2 separate regions of the Homo sapiens genome follow, and region 1 is linked to region 2. The links come from fine-mapping of genetic effects on gene expression. A gene starts in region 2. The other region holds a variant in brackets. All regions are shown on one strand. Distances are from middle to middle. Region 1 overlaps COPZ2 (coat protein complex I subunit zeta 2). Region 2 holds the start of NFE2L1 (NFE2 like bZIP transcription factor 1).

Evidence for each region.
Region 1: its variant is fine-mapped to the expression of NFE2L1 in whole blood (TOPMed, PIP above 0.99).

What each region holds. Positions count from the first base shown.
Region 1 is chr17:48,014,787-48,029,146 of GRCh38, reverse strand. It overlaps COPZ2 (coat protein complex I subunit zeta 2), which reads left to right. Exons shown (of 9, transcript NM_016429.4): 7 at 1-22; 8 at 637-675; 9 at 2,672-2,980. The coding sequence ends at 2,719. Among named protein-coding and RNA genes, the nearest start is that of MIR10226, 11 kb to the left of the region's middle. RefSeq lists silencers at 1,154-1,420, 4,645-4,774 and enhancers at 1,804-2,360, 2,361-2,919, 11,344-11,443, 13,121-13,620, 13,621-14,122. The variant C/A (reference allele first, on the strand shown) is at 4,564.
Region 2 is chr17:48,044,301-48,052,300 of GRCh38, reverse strand. NFE2L1 (NFE2 like bZIP transcription factor 1) reads right to left here and starts at 3,942. Exons shown (of 6, transcript NM_003204.3): 1 at 3,839-3,942; 2 at 673-1,694. The coding sequence starts at 1,182. NFE2L1-DT (NFE2L1 divergent transcript) reads left to right here and starts at 4,248. Exons shown (of 2, transcript NR_170231.1): 1 at 4,248-4,676; 2 at 5,331-5,420. It also overlaps a transcript of COPZ2 not described here. RefSeq lists a silencer at 3,533-3,812 and enhancers at 3,363-3,964, 4,223-4,462, 3,965-4,566, 4,533-4,722, 4,567-5,170.

The DNA of each region.
Region 1 (14,360 bases), 26 kb after region 2:
GATCCAGAAGGTGAATTTTAGGGTAAGAGTCTTCCTGGACACCTCCTCTTTTAGGCTGCCCTTCCTGTCCTCCCTGGGAATAGGGCTGCTAGGGCCTAGATGGTAGAAGCCCAAGCTCCTCTAGCAGAAGCCAACCACTGGGCTGACACACTTGTTAGGGGTGAGATGAGCAGCAGTTTCTGGGTGGGATGCCAGTTAATGGAAGAAATCTTCCTGTCCTCTCCCCGGCTAGGAGCACAAGTACCTCACCTCTTTCCTGGTAGGAAGTATAGACTGGGGAAATAAATACATCTTCAAAGAGGCACTAGGTGGCTGCCTTGGCCTTGAGGTTGGGGGTCAGGGGTATGGATAGAACCTCCCTGCCTTGTTTGGCTTTCTCATGTCTGGATGAAACCTTTCTTCCCATCTTTCTTCCCATCTTCCCTCACCCTCCACGCACCATAGCACAATCCCAGAGGTCCTGGCTTCCAAATGACAGGCTGCAGGACTTCTATTAACCAGTGACACAGGTGCAGCTCTGAATCACCCTAACCACTGCACCACCTCACCCATACCCCCAAGCCCCTTTCCTTCACCTCCCTGACCCAGGACCCTCATGCTGGCCCTACCCCACCCCTTGACTCTGCTTCCTTACAGGCAGATGATGGCGGCTTGACTGAACAGAGTGTGGCCCAGGTAGGCCCCCCTGCATCTGCCTTGGCTAGAAATGGTCTAGAGAGATACGGGGAGCAGAGCATCCTAGAGCATCCTAGGGGGACCCAGTGAAGTTATCAAGTCTGAAAAATCAGGGGTGAGAAGGGAAGGGATGAGGCAGTGACAGGTCATATCTTGGAAAGACTCACTGGAGGCCTCCGGGCTCTCCAACTCAGGGGAGCTGGGTACTAATGGATGGATGGGCATGTTACCATCAGCCCACCTCATCTCCTGGCTTGGTTTAGTTGGATTGAAACTAGGATGAGCTGCCTACCTTGGAGATGGCTGGGTCACTTGTGCACCCCAAAAATCTGGGAACTCAGGCCTCTGATGCGCCCTCTACCGAAACCTGGAAAGGGTACCAAATAGGAGTTTGGCTCTTAACCCCTGTCCTTGCCACTTAGGGTGCACACTGGGATTGTTAAGGGACTCTCAAACCCATGATAGGATCTGACTTTCCCCACTCATCACTTGTCACCTTACCCCTGAGTGACCTGGCTATGGAAGAACCTGCCACAACCCTGCATGGTCTTATCTGGAGGTGCTTGCAGAGCGTAAGGCCAGGGGGAGGTTCCTGGCTCTGAAGCCTGATCAGTTCCCCAGCTGCACAAACTTCCTGCTAGTTCAGGACGACTGTCTTGACCTCTCTTCTGTCCACCTGCAGGTCTCTCTGCTCAGACTAATCCTGCTTGTATGGAACTTCCCGCCCTGGCGCTAACTCCTCGTGCTGTGGTGGCCCTACCGAGATGAGCCTGTGCTGTCTCGTGTGGAGTCCCAGGTGTGGCGCCCATTTTCCTGCACTGCCCTTAGCGCTCACTCTGCTTCGCCCTCCCCTCTGATTCCCCATGTTTCCTCATACCATGCTGGAATGAATGCAGCTGCAAGGCAATTTTTAGAGTGGAAAGAGGGTAGGGAGTAATAAGCAGAGCAGATAAGAACACAGGTGCTCATGGGAGTCATCCCAGGGTACGTGTTCTACCTTACCACCTAAAGCTGGGTGACCTAGGGCAAGTTACTCAACCTCTCTGGGCCTCACATAATAACAGGACCCTCTTCATGGAGTTATGAGAATTCAATGAGCCAATGCGTGACAAGCTCTTAGTAGGGCTCCAAGCCAGTTAACACATGCTGAATAACCATCAGTATTTCTCCAAAGGGAGAAAGAATGAAAACATAGCATTTTTGATGGAATTCTTGAGTAAAAACAAAGGAAGCTACAGGTAGCCAATGGGGGATAAAATGAGGACAAAGTTAGATTCTGGCTAGGAGAATCAGGGGAACCCTAAGCCACTGTCCCCAAGAGAGGAGGGAGACTGTGCAGGAGGAGGAGACACAGCGTTCCCTCCTTCTCTAGAGGGGAATAAGGCTGAGTGGCTGGAGGGACAATCTGAGGGACACACCTGAGTCCTGTCCCCCTCTCCTGCTTTGGTATTGTGCATGCACGTGTGCACTTATATGGATTTGTGTAAGCACTGGGCTGAGACTTTCCACCAGGCATCCCACCGCAGGGTCTGGCTGGCCACCCTTTGCCAGCTATGCCACATCAGCAGTGGGTTGCGGTGGGGTGTTGAGGACACATTGCCAGCCATGGCCAGAGCTAGGGGTTTGCTGAGGCGTCTGAGCACAGGGAGTGTCAGGCCTGGGCCCCGTCTCCGCCTGGACGTGGCACTGTGGGCGGGAACTCTCATGGCATGACAGCGGGGAGACAGGCTGCTGCCACACCCACGCTGCAGATGCAGGAGCCAGAGGTCTGGGCAGGCTTGGGCCTGAGGTGGGAGCTGGCTGCAGCCGGTTTGGTCTGCGCTTTCTGACTTGGAGGGTTGGCCGCGTTTAAGCCAAGTGGAGACAAGCTGCTGCCACCTAGTGACCGGTGGTTGCAGGGGCGCTTCGGCAAGGTGGGCTGTGGACCTCCCCATGACTGTGTATGGAGGCATTTGACATTCTCAATTCTCTCTCAACCTCCCCCACCCCACCCCAGGTTCTTCAGTCTGCCAAGGAACAAATTAAATGGTCGTTATTGAAATGAAGGCTGTGGATTCAAGGCTCCCTGCCCCCCAGATCATTTCCCCAATCCTGGCAAAAGCCCAAAGATCCCAGGGTCAGGAGAGACCCCTCTGTATCCCCAGGTCCCTCCCAGAACTGACTCCTAAGGTCTCCAGCCAGGGCTTCTGAGATGCAAAGGTTTGGCCTCAGGAGAGTCACCTTTTCTCACGGCCCTGGCCTTAACTCATATCTTAGGCATTCCTGGCCCCAGGGCCCTAATAAACCTGCTTTTGTCTTCTGCCAAGGGTCTCCTTCTCTCTTGGCCTAGGAAGTGTGTGTGTGTGTGTGTGTTCATATAAGGGCTCCTGCACTTTCTGTGGCTCATCGTGGGGATATCCAGTACCAGGGTGGGGCGTGTCCCTGTGGTTGTGTGATTGGGCAGAGATGTGGGACAAGGGAAAGGGGACTATTTAACACCATGAGGGGGTGCGACGCTGATACCACGGAGCCCCATGTGTGGCGCATACTGCCAGGTAGGGGAGAGCAAAATATGGTACCCCTATTTTGCAATGCAGTACATACATGGTAGCTCCGCTGGGGATTCCTTGAGTCATTTTTTCCATTCCCAAACTCCAGAAGGGAAGAGAGGTAAGGCTTCCTCTGAACAAACCGAGAAACAGCATGGCTATTTTTCTTGGCATGCCTGGAACCGTGGAATTCCTATCCTGGCATACATCCTGGGCACTACAGCTCTCTGCAAGCTTGCGGGTGGTGGGGGCGAGGAAGCATCGCCAGCCCCCACCGTGCACATGTGTCCTGAGCACCCTGTGCGCTGCAGAGGGTGTGAAGAATTGCAGGTCCGGAGGGACAGGAGGGTGAAAGGGTGTCGCAGGGACAAACGGGAAGGGTGGAGATTGTATAGCCTTTCTGGGCGACACGACTTCCCTTCTCTGTCGCCGTCCCAGAACCTGTTTTCTCCTTTCCACTCTCTGACGCGTACACTTTCTGCGTCCCTGTAAATGCGTCCCTGAGCTTGTCTAGCGTTGCGTCCCGGGACAGCTCGTTTCCCTCGATCCTTTGCGGACTGCAGCTGGTGGCTCACGTTCCACCCCGGCTCCACCCCGGCCCCGCCCCTGGAGTGCGCTGAGCACTGCGGGAAGCCCCGCCCCAGGAAAGCCCCGCCCCAGGAAAGCATCCGCGATCCTATGGTGCCACCTGCAGGGACCGGCAGGAAACGCGCTCCCGCCGGACCGACCTGCTGACTAACTCCGCCCCCAGGGCGGACCCGACTCCGGCTCCTGAGAGTTACTGGTTGGTTTCCGACGCCGGCGACAGGACGTTGCCCTAGCAACCTGCACGCGTGACCCACCCTGCTAGTGCTGCGCCAGCGTGGGCACAGGAATTTCAGCGAAGGAGGGAAAGTGGCGAGCCGTGGACCTTAATAGAAGTTGTCCCTGCGGCTTTCAAGTCCTACATTATAAAACTGTTTAAGATTGGACATTTATAACGGGCTTGACTACTTCTGCAATTAGAGAAAATGATATAGTTATGTAAACATTTACATTGTAAGCGCTGAGTACGTAACCCGTCCCAGTAAATAATGCAAAATGGCAACTCTTGGAAGGGGAGAAAAAAAAAGAGTATTCGGTTAAATTCCGTGGAGTTCAGGGGCTAGTATGGCGACAAGAAAGGAGACATTTTCCAGAAATATTTTGGCAAATATGCGGCCACACCCAGGGCTTGGCTTCCTCCACCACCCTTAAGCGACCGCAAGGAGGGACGGGCAAATGCGCTTCTTAGCAACGCGGTCGCGCCCGCCTCGGCCCTGCTATTCCAATGTAGCAGGGACGGGAATGTAAAGGGACAGGCAGGAGGCTGGGCCCTTCA[C/A]ACAAACTGGCTCACCGAATCCTGTGAATTACGCGATGCTCTCCCCATTTTACGGAAGGGAACACTGAGCCTCAGGTTGACGTGTTTGGTGTAGTTTTCGCAGGGCGGGGCTCCGGATGGGGAACTGCTGGGGACAAGTGGCTTTCTCGCGCATCCCTGCCCTAGGCCCATCCGAACCCCTGGCCCACACAGTAACCGTACTAGGTTAAAAGGAAGGGGCTGAGGGGGCATGGCAATGCCGAGAGGCGACCGGAAAGGTGTCCTCGCCCGCGATGGCTGAGGGATTGTGGGGAGCGGCGCGGCTGCGAAGCAGCCGACGGACCCACGCCGCGGCGGAGAGGACAGCGCAGAGCGGGCTGCGCAGCACTGCCAGAGGACCCGGGAGGGCCGGCAAGGAAGGGCGCTGCCCCTTCCAGAGGACCCTGAGTTTGCAGGCCCAGCTTTCCGGGGGCTGAGGCGGAGACCCCGCTGGGGGTGGAGGGCCGCCGGCTGCTGTGCCCCCAGCTCCCACGTGGCGCCCGCAGCTCGGCAGAGCCGCCAGGATGACAAGCCTGGCCTGCCGCCCAGAGTCCTGCCCGCTGGCACCGGCTTCCTCCAGACTGCCTCATTAGCGCTGCCACAGGCCGGAGCCGGCGGGCGCGGAGGGGAGCGCGGAGGACTGGTTTTCGGGAAGGGCGGCCGGCGGTTCCGTGCGGGAGAGCAGCCAGGGCCTGCCTTCCAGTGTCCTGCCATCCCCAGGGCCCCTCTGCATCTTTCTGCATTCCTCCACCCCCTTGCCCTCGTGGGCGACCCTGCGGGCCCCAAGTGTATAAGGGAAGGGGGCCTCAGGGCCTCTTCTTTCCTCCAGCAGAATGGGCACCGGGGCACGTCTGAAACCCAGACCCCAGGAGCCAGGGCCCAGCCAGACGGCACGCACAGAAACACCGGCCCGGGGGCTCTGGCACGGAACAGGACGCCAGCAACAAGCAGAGCCAACTGGGGGCGCAGAGGTAGCGCGGCCTGGCCCTCGGACCCCTTTTATACCACTTAGAGCCCCGCACGCCCCCTGCCTTCCGGCTATTGGCTGGCAGGAAGGCGGGGCTGCTCGGGTTGGCTGGCATTCAGGCGGTGATGGATGGCTCCCCGCTGGCGGGACCGCAGCCGGGCTGGGCGCTTTGCAGGGCTGCAAAGATTGGCGGGGGTGGGGCCAGCCAGGCCTGGGTGTGGGGTGCAGGGGGATGAGCAGGACACCGCCCGAGGCTCAAATTTTCTGTGCCCTTAACCACCCTTTGAAACTTTGCTATATAGCGGGGGAAAAAAAAAAAATCTTACCTCTAAATTCCTACTAGATACCCTTTAACTTTGGAGGCCGATGCAGGTAATGTTGAATAATTTACCCAAAACAGTCTGGGCACAACCTTACAGACCTCCATTTCCTTCCAATTTAGGTCTCATTCATTCAACAATATTTGTTTGTTGATTCATTATTTCAAATATTTGAGTGTTTGCCATGAGCCAGGCACTGGGGAAAGAAAGAGAGAGACTGATTAGACTCCGTAGTGGGGTGAGGGTGGAGGTTAAAAGGCAGGAAGGGATTTAAGAGATATTTGAAAGTAGAAACGCCTTTAAAAATCAAATGATGTTCTTTATCTTGATCTGAGTAGTAGTAAAAAGTCACAGGCCGGGCGCAGTGGCTCACACCTGTAATCCCAGCACTTTGGGGAGCTGAGGCGGGCGGATCACAAGGTCAGGAGTTCGAGACCAGCCTGACCAACATGGTGAAACCCCGTCTCTACTAAAAATACAAAAATTAGCCAGGCATGATGGCAGGTGCCTGTAATCCCAGCTACTGGGGGAGGCTGAGGCAGGAGAATTGCTTGAACCCGGAAGGCGGAGGTTGCAGTGAGCCGAGATCTTGCCATTGCAATCCAGCCTGGGCAACAAGAGTGAAACTCTGTCTCAAAAAAAAAAAAAAAAAAGTCACAGAGTTTACACTTAAGATATGTGCTCTTTCCTGTAGGTAAGTCATACTTCAATAAAAAAAAAAAGAAATTAATCGAATGGCTGCCAAATTATATTCTAGCATCAATGTGTGTATGGTCCTCATCTGTTTCCTAATCTCTTCCTCATCTCTATGAACAGAAACTGGTAAACATGTTAGATGAGTTTCTAAATAAATAAGAGTGTGAGACACATGTAAATTTTATACTGCACATATAGATTAACGCCATTCCTCAAAATGCACCCTTTGGTAAGAAAAGCAACGTTAATAATAATAATAAAATAAACTCTTTTGGAATGAATTCGTTCAACAGACATTTACTAACAGGCTGTTTCCAGGCCAGGTACCTTGCTGGGGATTGTTGGGAGCTTCTAAAATGAATTGGGAAACACAGTTCCTGACTCAAGGAGATTACAATTTGGCTGGGGACAAAGTCATGTATGCAGATAAGGAAATGATAAATATTCACAGAGGAAACGGTGTATTACATAACATGTAAAGAAGGAAGATGGGGAAAGAGACACCCCAAAGGGAGCAACAACATAAGCAAGGCCAGAGGTAAGGAATCTCCGTTTAGGCTGGGCGCAGTGGCTCATGCCTGTAATCTCAGCACTTAGGAAGGGTGAGACAGGCAGGTTGCTTGAGTCTGGGAGTTCGAGACCAGCCTGGGCAACATGGCAAAACCCTGCCTCTACAAAAAAAAAAAAAATTAGCTGGGTGTAGTGGTGTGTGCCTGTAGTCCCAGCTACTGGGGGGAGAGGGGGCACCGTGGGCTGAGGTGGAAGGATCACTTGAGTCCAGGAGGCTGAGGCTGCTGTGAGCTGAGATCATGCCACTGCACTCCAGCCTGGAGGACAGAGCAAGACCCTGTCTAAAAAAAAAAAAAAAAAAAAAAAAAAGAAAAAGAAAAAAAATCTCTGTATTGTTTAAGGAATTTCAGTAGGCAAATGTAACTGGAATGGTGTGTGTCTGCAGGGAGTGTGTTGAGATCTGAGGTTTCTTCTAGATAGGTTGCAACTGGGTCGCAGTGAGCAATGAATGCCATGCTGAAGAATGACTGCTATTTATTGAGTTTGCTACTATATACACCTTAAAATTACCATTGTCCTCAAAACAACCTAACAAAGTAGGTATTGATAGGCTCGCTGCAGCCTCAACCTCCGGGGCTCAAGCTATCCTCTTACCTCAGTCCCCCGAGTAGCTGGGACCACAGGCATGTACCACCACACCCAGCTAATTTTTAAAAATTTTTTAATAGACACGAGGTCTCACCATGTTGCCCAGGCTGGTCTCAAACTCCTGAGCTCAAGCGATCTGTCCACTTTGGCCTCCCAAAGTGTTGGGTATACCGCGCCTGGCCCGTTAGCCTTCTTTTTACAAATGAGAGAGCTGAGAGTCTGAGAGACTGAATAACTTGCCTCAGAGCTCATAGGTGGGATTTAAACCCATTCTGGTCTGACTCCATTGCTGGCTCTTCTTTACCCCAACCACAGAGCTAAAGAACTTGGCTTGTGGCCAGTCGCCATGGCTCACACCTGTAATCCCAGTACTTTGGGAGGACAAGGTGGGTGGATCACCTGAGATCGAGACCAGCCCGACCAACATGGAGAAACCCTGTCTCTACTAAAAATACAAAATTAGCAGGGTGTGGTGGTGCATGCCTGTAATCCCAGCTACTCGGGAGGCTGAGGCAGGAGAATCGCTTGAACCCAGGAGGCAGAGGTTTCGGTGAGCCAAGATCGTGCCATTACACTTCAGCCTGGGCAACAAGAACGAAACTCCATCTCAAAAAAACAAAACAAAACAAAACAAAAAGTCAGTAAAGAACTTGGCCTGTGTTCTGAAGGTAATAGGGAACCACTGAAGATTTTCAAGCTGTTAAGTGATATCAGCTCTATGTTTTGAGGGAGGAACTCTGCTAGCAACATGGAACCTGGGTTAAAGAAGAGAACAGGAATTCAGGGTCAATTTATGACCCCCAAAACGAAATATTTTCATTACAGTCACTTCTCATTCTTGATCTAAAACAGTACCACCCAGCTTGATTGCTGATCTTACTCACCAAGCAGCTTGCAAAAATCAAGTCCACTCTCAGAATTTGAAGAGTTGGTGCTTGAATTAATTCAGATAATTGCAGGCAATCATTCCAAAAAAGGCCCTCCAAAAGGACCATTTTGTCAGGGACAATGATCTGAATATTTAGGTTCTGAAAAGTATGTTTAAAAATAACAAGTCGGCCGGGCACGGTGGCTCATGCCTGTGATCCCAGCACTTTGGGAGGCCAAGGCAGGTGGATCACAAGGTCAGGAGTTCAAGACCAGCCTGGCCAAGATGGTGAAACCCCCGTCTCTACTAAAAATACAAAAAAAAAAAAAAAAAAAATTAGCCAGGCATGGTGGCAGGTGCCTGTAATTCCAGCTACTCGGGAGGCTGAGGCAGGAGAATTGCTTGAACCCGGGAGGTGGAGGTTTCAGTGAGCTGAGATTGCACCATTGCACTCCAGCCTGGGCAACAAGAGCGAAACTCCGTCTCAAAAAAACAAAAAACAAACAAACAAAAAAAAACACAAGTCTACTTTATATCTTATATATTTAGTGCCCTCTTATCACTCTCACGTACCCCACTCTGAAAATAGACACATACACTTCAAATGAAAGAAAAAGAAGTAGCAAGAGGGATCTGATTCCATTTGACCAGATCCACAATTTCTCTTTGTCTAGACATCTGATTTTTTTTTTTTTTTTTTGAGACTGGGTCTTGCTCTGTCACCCAGCCTGGAGTGCAGTGGCATGAATACGGTTCACTGCAGCCTTGATTTCCTGGGGAGAAGTGATCCTCCTACTTCAGCTTCCCATGTAGCTTGGACTATAGGTGCACACCACGACACCTTGCTTTTTTTTTTTTTGCTTTTTTTTTTTTGGTAGGGAGATGGGGGTCTCACTTTGTTGTCCAGGCTGTTCTCAAACTCCTGGGCTCAAGTGATCCTCCTGCCTCAGCCTCCCAAAGTGCTGGGATTACAGGATTGAGCCGCCATGCCTAGCCTTTTTTTTTTTTCCTAAGGGACAGAGTTTTGCTCTGTCGCCTAGGTTGGAGTACAGTGGCGTGATCATGGCTCACTGCAGCCTCAACCTCCAGGTAGCTGGGACTACAGGCACATGCCACCACACCCGGCTAATTTTTTGTTTATTGTAGAGACAGGATTTTGCCATGTTGCCCAGGCTGGTCTTGAACTCCTGGACTCAAGCGATCCACCCAAGTCAGCCTCCCAAAGTGCTGGGATTACAGGCATGAGCCATCACAGCCAATCCAGACACCTGATTTTTAAGAGATTGAAAATATGTGTTTTACTCTCATGGCTGCCAGTGAGCCCTCATCTGAAACAAACAAACAAATAAACTTGAGGATAGAAGAAAACTCTGGAAGTGATGAGGCTATAACCTTGCTTCCAGACAACAGCTTCTTAGTGAGTGACAGGGTGTTCTGGGGTGGGGATATATGGGGTGAGTAGGTGAGGACTCAGGTTCTGGGTGGAATGATTGGAAGACTGGTTTCAGCTGCTTACCATTCCTAGCAGCCTTGTGTTTGGAAGGTTGGAGGGCTCTTGGAACATCCTCTCCTAAGAGATGGCTGGAAAAGTCCAGAATTAATTTATCTTGGGGAAACAGGTAAGATAAAAACTTCTGGAATCGGCCGGGCGTGGTGGCTCACACCTGTAATCCCAGCACTTTGGGAGGCCGAGGTGGGCAGATCACGAGGTCAGAAGTTTGAGACAAGCCTGACCAACATGGTGAAACCCCGTCTCTACTAAAAATACAAAAATTAGCTGGGCATAGTGACGTGCGCCTCTGGTCCCAGCTACTCAGAGGCTGAGGCAGGAGAATCGCTTGAACCCGGGAGATGGAAGTTGCAGTGAGCCAAGATCGCACCACTGCACTCCAGCCCTGGGTGACAGAGCGAGACTCCATCTCAAACAAACAAACAAACAAAACTTCTGGGACCCAAAGTCCCCCAAAATCTCAGTGTTCTCCAGATGGCAGCAAGAAGAAGTAGCTCTCACAGGTTTGCCCAGAAGATGGTGCTGTAAGACAAGCCCCTCTTTCATCCTTAGCCTGGCCGGGATCAGTGACGGGACTATGAAAAGGCTTGCAGGAACCAGACCTAGAGGGCATCTCTACTCTCTATTGGGCAGGAGTTATCTCACAGTGCTGAGCATTGCAGTCCATTCCTAGATACTCCCTAGACCACAGAGGAGAACCTTGGGGGTTCCCACATCAGAGCTGTGAGCACCTCCATGGGAACACGAAGGTGAGAGACCCTGGGCACCTGGGACAGCAATTGTCCTGAGAAAACAGGGCCTCTGATCAAGAAACACTGTCAAGAAATACAGACCTGGCTGGGCATGGTGTCTCGCTCCTGTAATCCCAGCACTTTGGGAGGCCGAGGTGGGCAGATCACTTTAGGTCAGGAGTTCGAGACCAACATGGCCAACATGGTGAAACCCTGTTTCTACTAAAAATACAAAAATTAGCTGGGCATGGTGACACATGCCTGTAATCCCAGCTACTCGGGAGGGTGAGGCAGGAGAATTGCTTGAACCCAAGAGATGGAGGTTGCAGTGAGCCGAGACTGCGCCACTGCACTACAGCCTGGGTGATGGAGTGAGACTCTGTCTCAAACAAACAAACAGAAAACAAATACAGACCTTTTCCTCCAACTCTGGAGATTTGGACCCATTCCCCAAGGTAGCTGGGAGGTTGAGGAAGGGGTCTGAGGGGCTTGGGCACTGACTGAAGTTTATACTCTAAGGTAGAAAAAAAAAAGTGGATCTTTCTGGGAGAGCAAGCTAGAGGCCTTCAGATTAGGAAAGTGAAACTCAAAGGTTGACTTACCCAATGTCACACAGCTAACAAGGGACAGAACTGAGACAAGAAAGAGGGTTTCCTGGAACCCTCTTACCTCTTCCTCTTTCTGCCCTGTGTTTTCTGCAGATCATGAGAATATAACGTTTATAAATAGAATTCCCTTGACAAGGAGTGCCTTCCTGGGCAGTAAGAAAAAATAGCAGGGCTCTTGACTCAAAACCCCAATGCACATTTTTCTTTGCATGCTTTTTTTTTTTTTAACAGTCTCACTCTATCACCCAGGCTAGTGTACAGTGGCACAGTCTCTGCTCACTGCAACCTCCACCTCCCAGGTTCAAGTAATTCTCCTGCCTCAGCCTCTTGAGTAGCTGGGATTACAGGCACCTGCCACCATGCCTGGTTAATTTTTGTATTTTTAGTAGAGACGGGGTTTCACCATGTTGCCCAGGCTGGTCTCGAACTCCTGAGCTCAAGCAATCTGCCCACCTCGGCCTCCCAAAGTGCTGGGAGCCACCATGGCTGGCTCCAATAGCGTTTTCTAATTTTTATTTTATTTATTTATTTATTTATTTATTTATTTATTTATTTATTTATTGAGACAGAATCTTGCTCTGTCGCCCAGGCTGGAGTAAGTGGCGCCATCCTGACTCACTGCTGCATGTGCCTCCTGGGTTCAAGTGATTCTCGTGCTTCAACCTCCCAAGTAGCTGGGACTAGAGGCACACAACACCATGCCCAGCTAATTTTTGTATTTTTAGTAGAGACAGGGTTTCACCATATTGGCCAGGCTAGTCTCAAACTCCTGACCTCAAGTGATCCTCCCGCCTTGGCCTCCCAAAGTGCTGGGATTACCGACATAAGCCACCACGCCCAGCACGTCTGTTTTTTAAATAATGAAATTAATAAGTGAGTCCCATCAGCTGCACTTCTTTTCTGAGGATAATTTATATACAAGACACAGAAAAGCTTCTTGCACAATGTTCTTTTAATAGGATTTATGTAAACTCACATTTGTCAGGATCCGTAAAAGTATTCTATTTCTTTCACACATGTAATTTTTTTGTACCTCTATCTCAGTGAAGGAGGCAGGCGTTGTCATTCCCACTTGTGAGGTGATTGAGGATGCTCTCGGGTGCTGGGAGCAGAAGCAATGCGGCCTGAACCCAGGTATGGATTTCATTTTGAAGAAAGGTCTCCTTGTAGGGCACTATCCTGGACCCAGTGGGCCTGCCCTTCCTATTTATTTCTTAGTGAAACCAGAAAGTTTGCTGGGGCCAGTATGATGGAGCATCGTGACTGACAAATGGCTGGGATTAGTCTAATGGGTAGGCAGCTGTATATGGAGGAAGGCGATGAGGGATCAGACCATTTCCCCAGATTCCAGTGGAAACTTTGCAGGCAGTAGCTAAATGAGTCAGAGAAGATAAGAAGACTGGAGTACCTTGCAGAACACTTCCCATACCCTCCCACCTCCAGCCCCAAGGAGGATTAGGATGCAGGGAGTCTGCAGATGAAACAGTTGTTTACAAAGGCTGGAGAAGCATGCCAGGAAACTAGTCCAGGGGCAGTTTCCAGGGCCTGAGATTGATACTACTCCATCTTGAAAACTGAAAAAAAAAAAAAAAAAAAAAAAAAAAAAAGTGTGACTCTTTAGTTCTGTACTCCCTTTAGTTCTGGGAGTGCATTTGGAGTTTCCTTTAAATTCTATGTGGATACAGGATGCTGAAGGAGGAGAATCACTTGAACCCCAGAGTCAGAGGTTGCAGTGAGATGAGATGATGCCACTGCTCTCCAGCCTGGGCGACAGAGTAAGACTGTTTCAAAAATAAAACAAAAGGCCAGGCGTGGTGGCTCACGCCTATAATCCCAGCACTTTGTGACTCCATCTCAAAAAAAAAATAATAAATAAATAAAATAAAATAAATTGTATGTGGATAAATTGAGGAGAGCTAAGGTGCAACACATGAGAAAGAGACAAGGGGTGGGGGTGGGCACAGTGGCTCACGCCTGTAATCCCACCACTTTGGGAGGCCAAGGCAGGTGGATCACCTGCGGTCAGGAGTTCACCAGCCTGGCCAACATGGTGAAACCTTGTCTCTACTAAAAATACAAAAATTAGCTAGGCATGGTGGCACACGCCTGTAGTCCCAGCTACTCCGGAGGCGGAGGCAGGATTGTTGCTTGAGCCCATGAGGCAGAGGTTGTAGCGAGCCGAGATCACGCCACTACACTCCAGCCTGGGCGACACAGTGAAACTCCAACTCAAAAAGAAAAAAAAAAGGGGGCGGGCGTGGGTGCTGGGAAGGCAAGAAGGAAATAGCAGAGGAGAGACAAGGGAACTCCTGGCTTGGGAAGGCTCTTGCCTGTCCCACCTCATGCAAGCATAAGCACTCCTGCCAAGACGGGGGCCCTCCGGAGGATGTCCAACTTAAAGCTCAGATCCTGGGCAGCAGCAATGGGGAGGGGATTGGGGTATCCCAGGGCAGATGGCCTTAAGGGACCTATTTGTAGAGGCAGAGGCCCAGAGGCTGTCATATGCAAGCTGCTTAGGGTCACAAGAGAAATCCGGAGCTTCCCTGATGACCATCTTTCTTCTCCTCCTCTTTCTGACTCTCTTCTTCCTTCCACTCTCCCTAAACCTGCTGAATCCCTTAGGCAGCTGGGATCAACATAAGCTAGAAACTGATGCGTATACAAGGGAAATCGGGAAGCCTAGAAACAGCAGAACCTGGGAGGGGTACCTGTGTACAGGGCAAATGAAGGGAGCCTGAAAACAGCTGAATCTGGGGAGATGGAACTGCCTAGTGAGAGAGCAAGGGGCTTCTGGAAACTGCTGAATCCAGGGAGGCCAATTTGTATACCGGGGAAATATGGGGGAACCTAGAAACAGCAGGATCTGGGGAGACAGTCGTGTACAGGGGGCAGACAGAGGGAGTAGCCTGAAAACAGTTGAA
Region 2 (8,000 bases):
GTCAGCCATGTGACAAGAGCTAAGGATCTCTTCTGACAGCTCAAAGCAAGTTGACTTGGGCAGCAGAATGCAGTTTCTCTTTCTAGCTCCCAGACTTCTCTTCCCTACTCCCTGCAGTGGGCCTTTTGCAAAGATTGGAAGCCTTGGCCCTCTCCTGGCCAAGAATAACTATCCAAATCTACCCTTTGGCTCAGGCCCAGGAGGTCTGAATTATCAGGACAATACAACAACAGGCCTCGCCACAAAGGAGAACTTCAGGGTATGTCTGTGTTCTGATGTGGGGGGAGGTACAAAACAAGAGTCCAAAAAGTATTTGTGTCTTAGCAACAGATGTACACTGCATCAAAGCCCATCACAACATGACTCCTCCCCCACCCCAGGCCTCCAGCAGTCACGCTGAAATCCAAGCAGTAAACACCCTGGCATGTGTAGGAACCTCCCACTGCCCTGACAGTACATTTAGAGGTAGGTCAATGGTTCAACACAGGGAAATGCTCCCAGCCCCCAATCCTAAAGTCAGAAAGTTCAGCCCATCCCTACCCAAGAACAGTGCCTGAGGCCCTGCTGAAACCTGTCTGGCTCTTTACAGGGCTCAGTGTTCTGACCACAATCCTTTGGGACCAGCCCACCCCCAAGCCCCAGGCCCCACACACCCACCACAGGTCCACTAACCTCTTTGGTTAAGTCTCCACTGACTGGGGGGGCTACAGCCCCCAAATCCTCCAAATCTTCACCGAATCCCTGCTCCGTTTCGCTTTCTCGCACCCCGTTGTCTGGGCCTGTCACATCTTGGAGGCCACTGGAACTCTCGAGGGCGAGGCCTGAGTTGGGCTGACTGCCAGAGACAGACCCCTCTGGGTCTCGGTGAACCAGCCAGGCATTTACCTCAGTGGTTGGCACCTGGAACCTGTCCAGGGCCCTCACCTGACTGAGGAGCCGCCGGGCAGTGAAGTAATTGTCCAGGTCTATGCTCTTGGGGTGGATACCATAGCCATCCAAGGTATTCCTCAGGTTGTGGAACTGGGTCTGAGTATAGGCAGAACTGGGCCCCAGGATGATCTCCCGGAGTGGGGGAAGCTGTGAGGTCAGGTAAGTATCCACGTCCACCCGTACCCCAATCAAACTCAGCAGAATGGTGAACTGGAGAAGTCCTTCCGTTAAGTATTTCTTCAGAGAAAGCATTGCTGAAGGACCAGAATGTTTATGCTTTTTGGTTTTTAAAATCTTCCAAAAGACAAATCAAGGCCACTGCTCTGCCGCTCCAGCCAGCAGGTTACCCTCCTCAGTGTCAAACCCCGTACCCCACCCTGGCAGAACACAAGGGATGAGCTCCCTGACGGCCCCAGAGGAAAGCACACCCTGTGGAGCCAAGGCCAAGGACACACTCCAGACCACATTCACTTTCCCTTCTCGACACCTCACCTCTGAAAGTACAACTGTTCCTAACCCAGTCCAGGTCCTCAAGGGCCCACGTGACTTACTTTCTCCACAGTCCACATACAGTCACTTCCTCACTCACATTAGTTGTCCTCTCTGTAGATTCCAATGCAGGCTGTTCTCAGGAACAGCTGATGGATTTTTTTTTTCCTTCTCCCTCCTAAGGTTTATTTTCTTTGGCTGGAGCTACAGGCCTTTCGTCTTGGGTCAGAGTGTCCCGCCTCCTCCACACTTACCAGGGGGGTTTCCAGAGAAACCTGAAATGGGAATCACAAAAGCAACAGGATAAGATTCCATACTTTTCACATCATGATCAGGGTAGGAAAACCTTCACAGTAGAAGGTAGAAAACACATTCAAAGGACACTTTCACTTTTTTTTTTTTTGAGACAGAGTCTCACTCTGTCGCCCAGGCTAGAGTGCAGTGGCGTGATCTGTGCTCACTGCAACCTCCACCTTCTGCATTCAAGCGATTCTCCTGCCTCAGCCTCCCAAGTATCTGGGATTACAGGCGCCTGCCACCACGCCCTGCTAATTTTTGTATTTTTAGTAGAGATGGGGTTTCACTATGTTGGCCAGGCTGGTCTCAAGCTCCTGACCTCAGGTGATCTGCCCGCCTCGGCCCCCCAAAGTGCTGGGATCACAGGCGTGAGCCACTGTGCCTGGCCTAAAGGCCACTTTTACAGGAAGAAAGGACTACTTACACTCTCAGAAAAAAAACCCAAAATATAGCAACCGATCATAGAAGAACTATCAAAGAAAGCTACTGATCACGAATGATCTCAGTTACTGAATATTAAATGTGCAATATCCTAAAATGTAGCTTGGTTTGAATAAGCAGACAATAACCAGGTCATCCAAAATATCTTACACCTTTGTTTTATTTACCAGCCCTCCTCCCCCACTACAGGCGCATTACCCAGCTTCTATTTTCACATGAGAAGCCCATTTCCTGTCTTAAAAGTAAAGCTGGATTTTCACCCCTCGGGAGAAAACCACCCATAACAGTTGTCTTTTCTCAGTTCAAAAAGGCAAGATTATTAAACAGTGAGAGTGTGGAAGGACAAAAGGACAATGTTCAGGCCACCACTTCACCCAGAAGAAGAATGCCTTTTGTTTTCTGAACTTTGAAATCTGATTTCCCTTTCCTATCCTCACAACTTACAAAAGAAAAAAAAGGAAAAGGGCCGACGCCTGTAATCCCAGCACTTCGGGAGGCCGAGGAGGGCGGATCACCCGAGGTCGGGAGTTTGAGACCAGCCTGAACAACATGGAGAAACCCCATCTCAACTAAAAATACAAAAATTAGCCGGGCGTGGTGGCGCATGCCTGTAATCCCAGCTACTCGGGAGGCTGAGACAGGAGAATCGCTTGAACCCAGGAAACGGAGGTTGTGGTGGGCCGATATCGCGCCACTGCACTCCAGCCTGGGCAACAAGAGCAAAACTCCGTCTCAAAAAAAGAAAAAAAAGAAAGAAAAGAAAAGGAAAGAAAAAAAGGAGAGGGATGGTGGGGGCCCTACTACGCAGGACTATTCCGTCCAGAATTTGCATAGGCAGGTTTTATTTTCATTCATATGACCTTCTGAGCCAAAGCAGAAGGATATGGCCACGTTCTCTAGCCAGACTGCCCAGTGCAGAGGAAGTAAATCTGTTTCTGGTCTCCACTTTTGAGCTTCCATTAATGTCACAAACCAAGACATACCGCCTCTCCTCTCCTGCGTTGTGACCCATCTACCAACTTCATTCTACAGGGGGAGAGCGAGCTATACGTACACACACGAACGTGCGCACACACACACACTCACACTCCCTCTCTCTGGTCAGAGTAAACACAATTGCGACCCAGAATTCCTGCTTACGCTACCCTCCCGTTCTCACGCAATTTATTACTAAAACCTCCCAGGAGCCAATTAAGTTCGAGGAACCGGACAAAGTCCCTTAAAAATCAAGTAGGTGCAGGGCCCATAGCCTGAGGCTGGTCCCACCCTGCCCGGATACCCGAGTCCGGCTGAGACCAAGTCGCCATGCCCACTCTCGGCGCCGGAGCTTCTAGCCTCCAGGGGCGGCCAGCGAACAAGTGCTACTTCCCTGGCCTTGACCCACCCTTACAGCAAACCCCACCCCGCCCTCCGTCCCGATGGCCCCACCCCACTCCCAAGTCCAGGCCTCACACCACGCCTTCTCGTGCCCTCAACCCTGCCCAGTCCATCCCACCCCGGAGCCAGCTTTCCTCTCGGCCCCGCGCGGGGCCCCTCCCTGTCAGGCCCAGGGCCGGGCTCTGGCGGGAACCCCGCTCGGCCCCCGCCTCCTGCACCTCAGCACCATCCCGTCGCCCCATAAGCCTCGGCCCCGCGGCGCTGCAACCCTCCCTTCTGGGAAAGGAATGTGCCCGATACCCACTGCTTAGCTCGGCGTCCGCCGCTGCCTCCACAGCAGGCCCTAAGCCCGAGTCCCGGCCTCGCCGCCGCCACCGCCGGCCGGCCTAGAGCTCGGAGCCTCCGCTTACCTCCCCGCCCCCTCCTGCTACCGCACTCGGAAACCCGCCCGCCGCAAACACCCTAGGAACAGTTTCTCCAATCAACGAGCCGAGGCCGGGGCCGTCGACGGATGTCCCTCTGATTGGCAGCAGAGAGGGCCCAATGGCTGAGTGTACCTCCTCATCCCCGGACCTGATTTCCCAAGACTGACATAATTCCCGGCCCAATGAGTACCTAGGCCCGCCCCGCGGTATGGACCCACCAATGAGGAGGGCGAAGGCCCTAGTGTCTGGCATTCTGGGCCCCTCGGCCGCGCCTTCGCGGCGGGCGATGTTAGTGGGCTTGGGCGTTGGGTGAAGTATCCAGGTTGGGCGCTTCCAGCGCTTTCTGTGGCGGGGGAATGAAGGCCTAGGTCAGGGAATAGGAAGGTGTATCGCCGCCAGAGTGCGGAACACCCTCGCCTTGAGGGTTCCCACAGTGACTTGCAAAAGTCTAGTGAGACCCGAGAATGCTGAGGCGGGACACGAAGCATGTGGTTCTTGTGGTTGCGACGCTCGTGCCGCCATCTTGGGTGCTGGCGGCGGAAACCGGTACCCCAACTTCCCCTCGGTGCGAACCTGGAGAAGCCACCCCAGCTGTGAGGGACGGTTGCGCCTCATGGCCCAGGCAAGGGTACCTTCGCTGGAGCAGTACCGCGGACGGATATCATGAGGGTGGTGGGACGTTGGCGGAACGTTGGCGGAACGTTGGCGGTGTGAGAGGTGTGGGGTAATGGCGATTTTTGTCATGGTAGAAACAGCCCAAAGGACCCCCCTCGTTTGGCCTCCCACGCAGCTTAGTCTTGCTTTTTTAGGGATGTTTCTCATTTTTTAATTTCTCCAGTCCCATCTGGTTATATTGCCAAAACATGTTTGTGACTCTCAAACGTTAGTTTACTCCCAGCATCACTTGGGGAGCTTGCTAAGCTACGAATTCCGAGGTCCCACTGGAGAGTCTGATTTAATGACCCTGGAGTGGCGGCCGGATAACCTGCCTGCTGGGGTGATTTTAACGCAGCTGATGCGAAGACCCCATTTAGGGAATCATTGGGTTGGCGTTTGCAATGCGTTCCTCCCAGCTATAGGACAAAGAGGTGTCAACTCAACTGTGTCTTCTTAGAAGAGCCCATTATTTATAGGTGAGTCATTAGTCCCTGTACAACTAAGGACAAGGCCAACTGATAACTCAGTAAATAATCGAGTCCATTTTGTGCTTGCGAGTTAGGGGCTTAATTTGGGGTGGTTTGCAGATTAAGTACTTTCACTGCATATAATAAACGTACACCAGCAAACCACTCATGGAATTCTTAAAAAAACTTCTGAGCTAGTTTACCAGTTTCAAAGACTAATTCAGAGAGCATGTTTTACCTATTCTAGGCTGGACTGGAACTCCTGGACTCAAGCGATCTTTCCATTTATCAGGGACTACTGACGCGTGTCTCCCAATAAATACCTGAGTATAAACAACATGAGGACTAGAATTTTGTGCGTTAACTGTTATAACTTAGTAGACACTCAAATACTGAGTACTTGAAGGGGGACTCAAGCAGGCAGGCCTCTGATTTTCCTGTTAAAAGCAGAAATTAACCACACCTTGGAGGATGTACAGTTTTGAAGGATATGGCATGTTAACAATAAAATAGGAGACCATTCAGTCCCCGAAGTAGTGAGACAATGAAGATAAAGACTGGTATTGTATAAGAAAGGAGGAATATTTAGGTGTGGCCATCAACTCTAAAAATAAATAAGGTTGAGAAGGAAGTATTTTAAACATAGAACTGGGCCCGGCGCAGTGGCTCACAGTAGCACCTTGGGAGGCCGAGGCGGGAGGATTGCTTGACCAGCCTGGGCAGCATAGTGAGACCCCCGTCGCTACAAAAAAACAAGCTGGGCTTGGTGCCACACATCTATAGTCCCAACTACTCAGGAGGCTGAGGTGGGAGGATTTCTTGAGCTGGGAGATTGAGGCTGCAGTGAGCTATGATGGTGCCAGTCTGGGCAACAGTGAGATGCTTCCTCAACAAAACAAAACATAAAATTGAGAGATATAAAGGCTCAACTACAGTGTTTAACTACAAGACAATTTTGAGAAGGTGAAAAGAGCATACTAAAGTTGGTCTTTTTTTGACAGAAAAATACAGAACAATTTTCAGTCCTAACAGTTCAAACTAAAACTGGACAATCGTTTATCTGTGGAGTTTCCTGCTTAGCCATTTCACAAAGGTGGGCAGAAAAAGGGAAAGAGTTGCAAGGGCCGAAGAGAGTAAAGGTGTAGAGACAAACTCAGTCGCAACAGCAGGCCTAGGCCTGGCAGGGTGTGGGCGCCCAGGATATTTGATGCTCCATGGAAGGGAGTGGAGACAGAAAGACTGTCTTCCATTCTGTCTAGAGTTCCAGATCAAGTCTGAGCAGGTGCAAGCTTTCCCAGAACCTGCTGATTAACCTTGTAAAACCCAGGGTGTGTCCTTCTTCACCCAGGAAGCCACCCCCTCCTTTCCCCCAACACTCTCCCCCTCCCTTTGCCTGGGACAGCTGTTAATAGGACAGTTACCCAAGAAGCAAAAGAAGGATCCCATGCTGATGTGTCATCAGTCCCGGTATATCCATTAAATCAGACTGAGAAGACCACTGGAAAAAGTGAGCGCATGCATGTGGCTCCCTAAGGGAAAGGCTGGCAGCCATTGTAAAACTAGGCCTTGCCCCTGCGACTCCAGGCTGGGCAGGAGAGAGAAGAAGGCAGTGGAAGCCGAGAAGAGGGTTAGGTCTAAAGCACACGGATTTGGGGCCAGCTAACTATAAAACATACACGGAAATCCCCACCCCCACCCCAGGAATAGCAGTGTAGTGTCTACCGACCCAGCTTCCCTGGTAGGAAAAGCTGCTGCTGCCGCCAACAGCCACATCCATCCTGCAGTCATCCCTGGAGGATGACACATGCCAGGAATCCTCAGAGAAGGGGCTGTGGGAGGGCAGGCTGGCTGGGGCTCTGATTTCTTCTGGAACAGTGAAATTGCTTTTTCCCTAAAAGGGAAACCCAGGCTTTCTGCCATTCTGGTTGTCCATTATCTTTCCTCTAAAAATGTCTCTAAGGCCAGGCACAGTGGCTCACACCTGTAACCCCAGCACTTCGAGAGGCCCAGGTGGGCAGATCACTTGAGCCAGGAGTTTGAGACCAGCCTGGCCAACATAGTGAAAACCCATCTCTACAAAAAAAATACAAAAATTAGCCAGGCGTGGTGGTTCATGCCTGTAGTCCTAGCTAGTGGGGAGGCTGAGGTGGAAAGATCACCCGATCCTGGGGAGGTTGAGGGTGCAGTAAGCTGTGATTGCGCCATTGCACTCCAGTCTGGGCAACAGAGTAAGACCCTGTCTCAAAAAAAATAATAAAAAGAAAAACATGTCTTTAAGTTTTGCTAATCCATATAAGTATTTCTTACTCTGTAACCTCATCTAATCCAGGGGAATAGATTAGATAGATGATTGCCTGAGATTTCCTTACAGTCCTGAGAGATGGTAGGAATACATCATGTCAATACTAAATGTTAGCATGTTTTGCAAAGAAATCAATTAGTTTTCTGGCAAATCCGGACATATGGCCCTCTCTCTTATATGGTAAACATCATCAGCAAGCTTGTTACCATTAAACCACCAAAAAGTAAAGCTCTCCTGCAAGCCAGCCTCTTTCCTATGCACCACTACCACACTCTTAGAAGATTGCTTCTCAATCCTGGCTGCATATTAGAATCACCCAGGTGGGTAGCTCGTAAGAAATACCAATGCCCAGGTCCCACCCCACACCAATTAAAACAGCTGCCCAGAGCAGAATTGGACATCAGTATTTTGTAAAAGCTCTTCAGGTGATTCTTATGCACAGCCAGAGTAGAGAATCACTAGGTTGGAGCAAGAATCCACATTGGGGTAAAAAAAAAAAAAAAAAAAAAAAAGCAAAAGATTGTGGTAATACGGGAACACAGACTAGAATGATTATCTGACTTTTTTTTTTGAGATGGAGTCGCTCTGTGGTCCAGGCTGGAGTGCAGTGACACC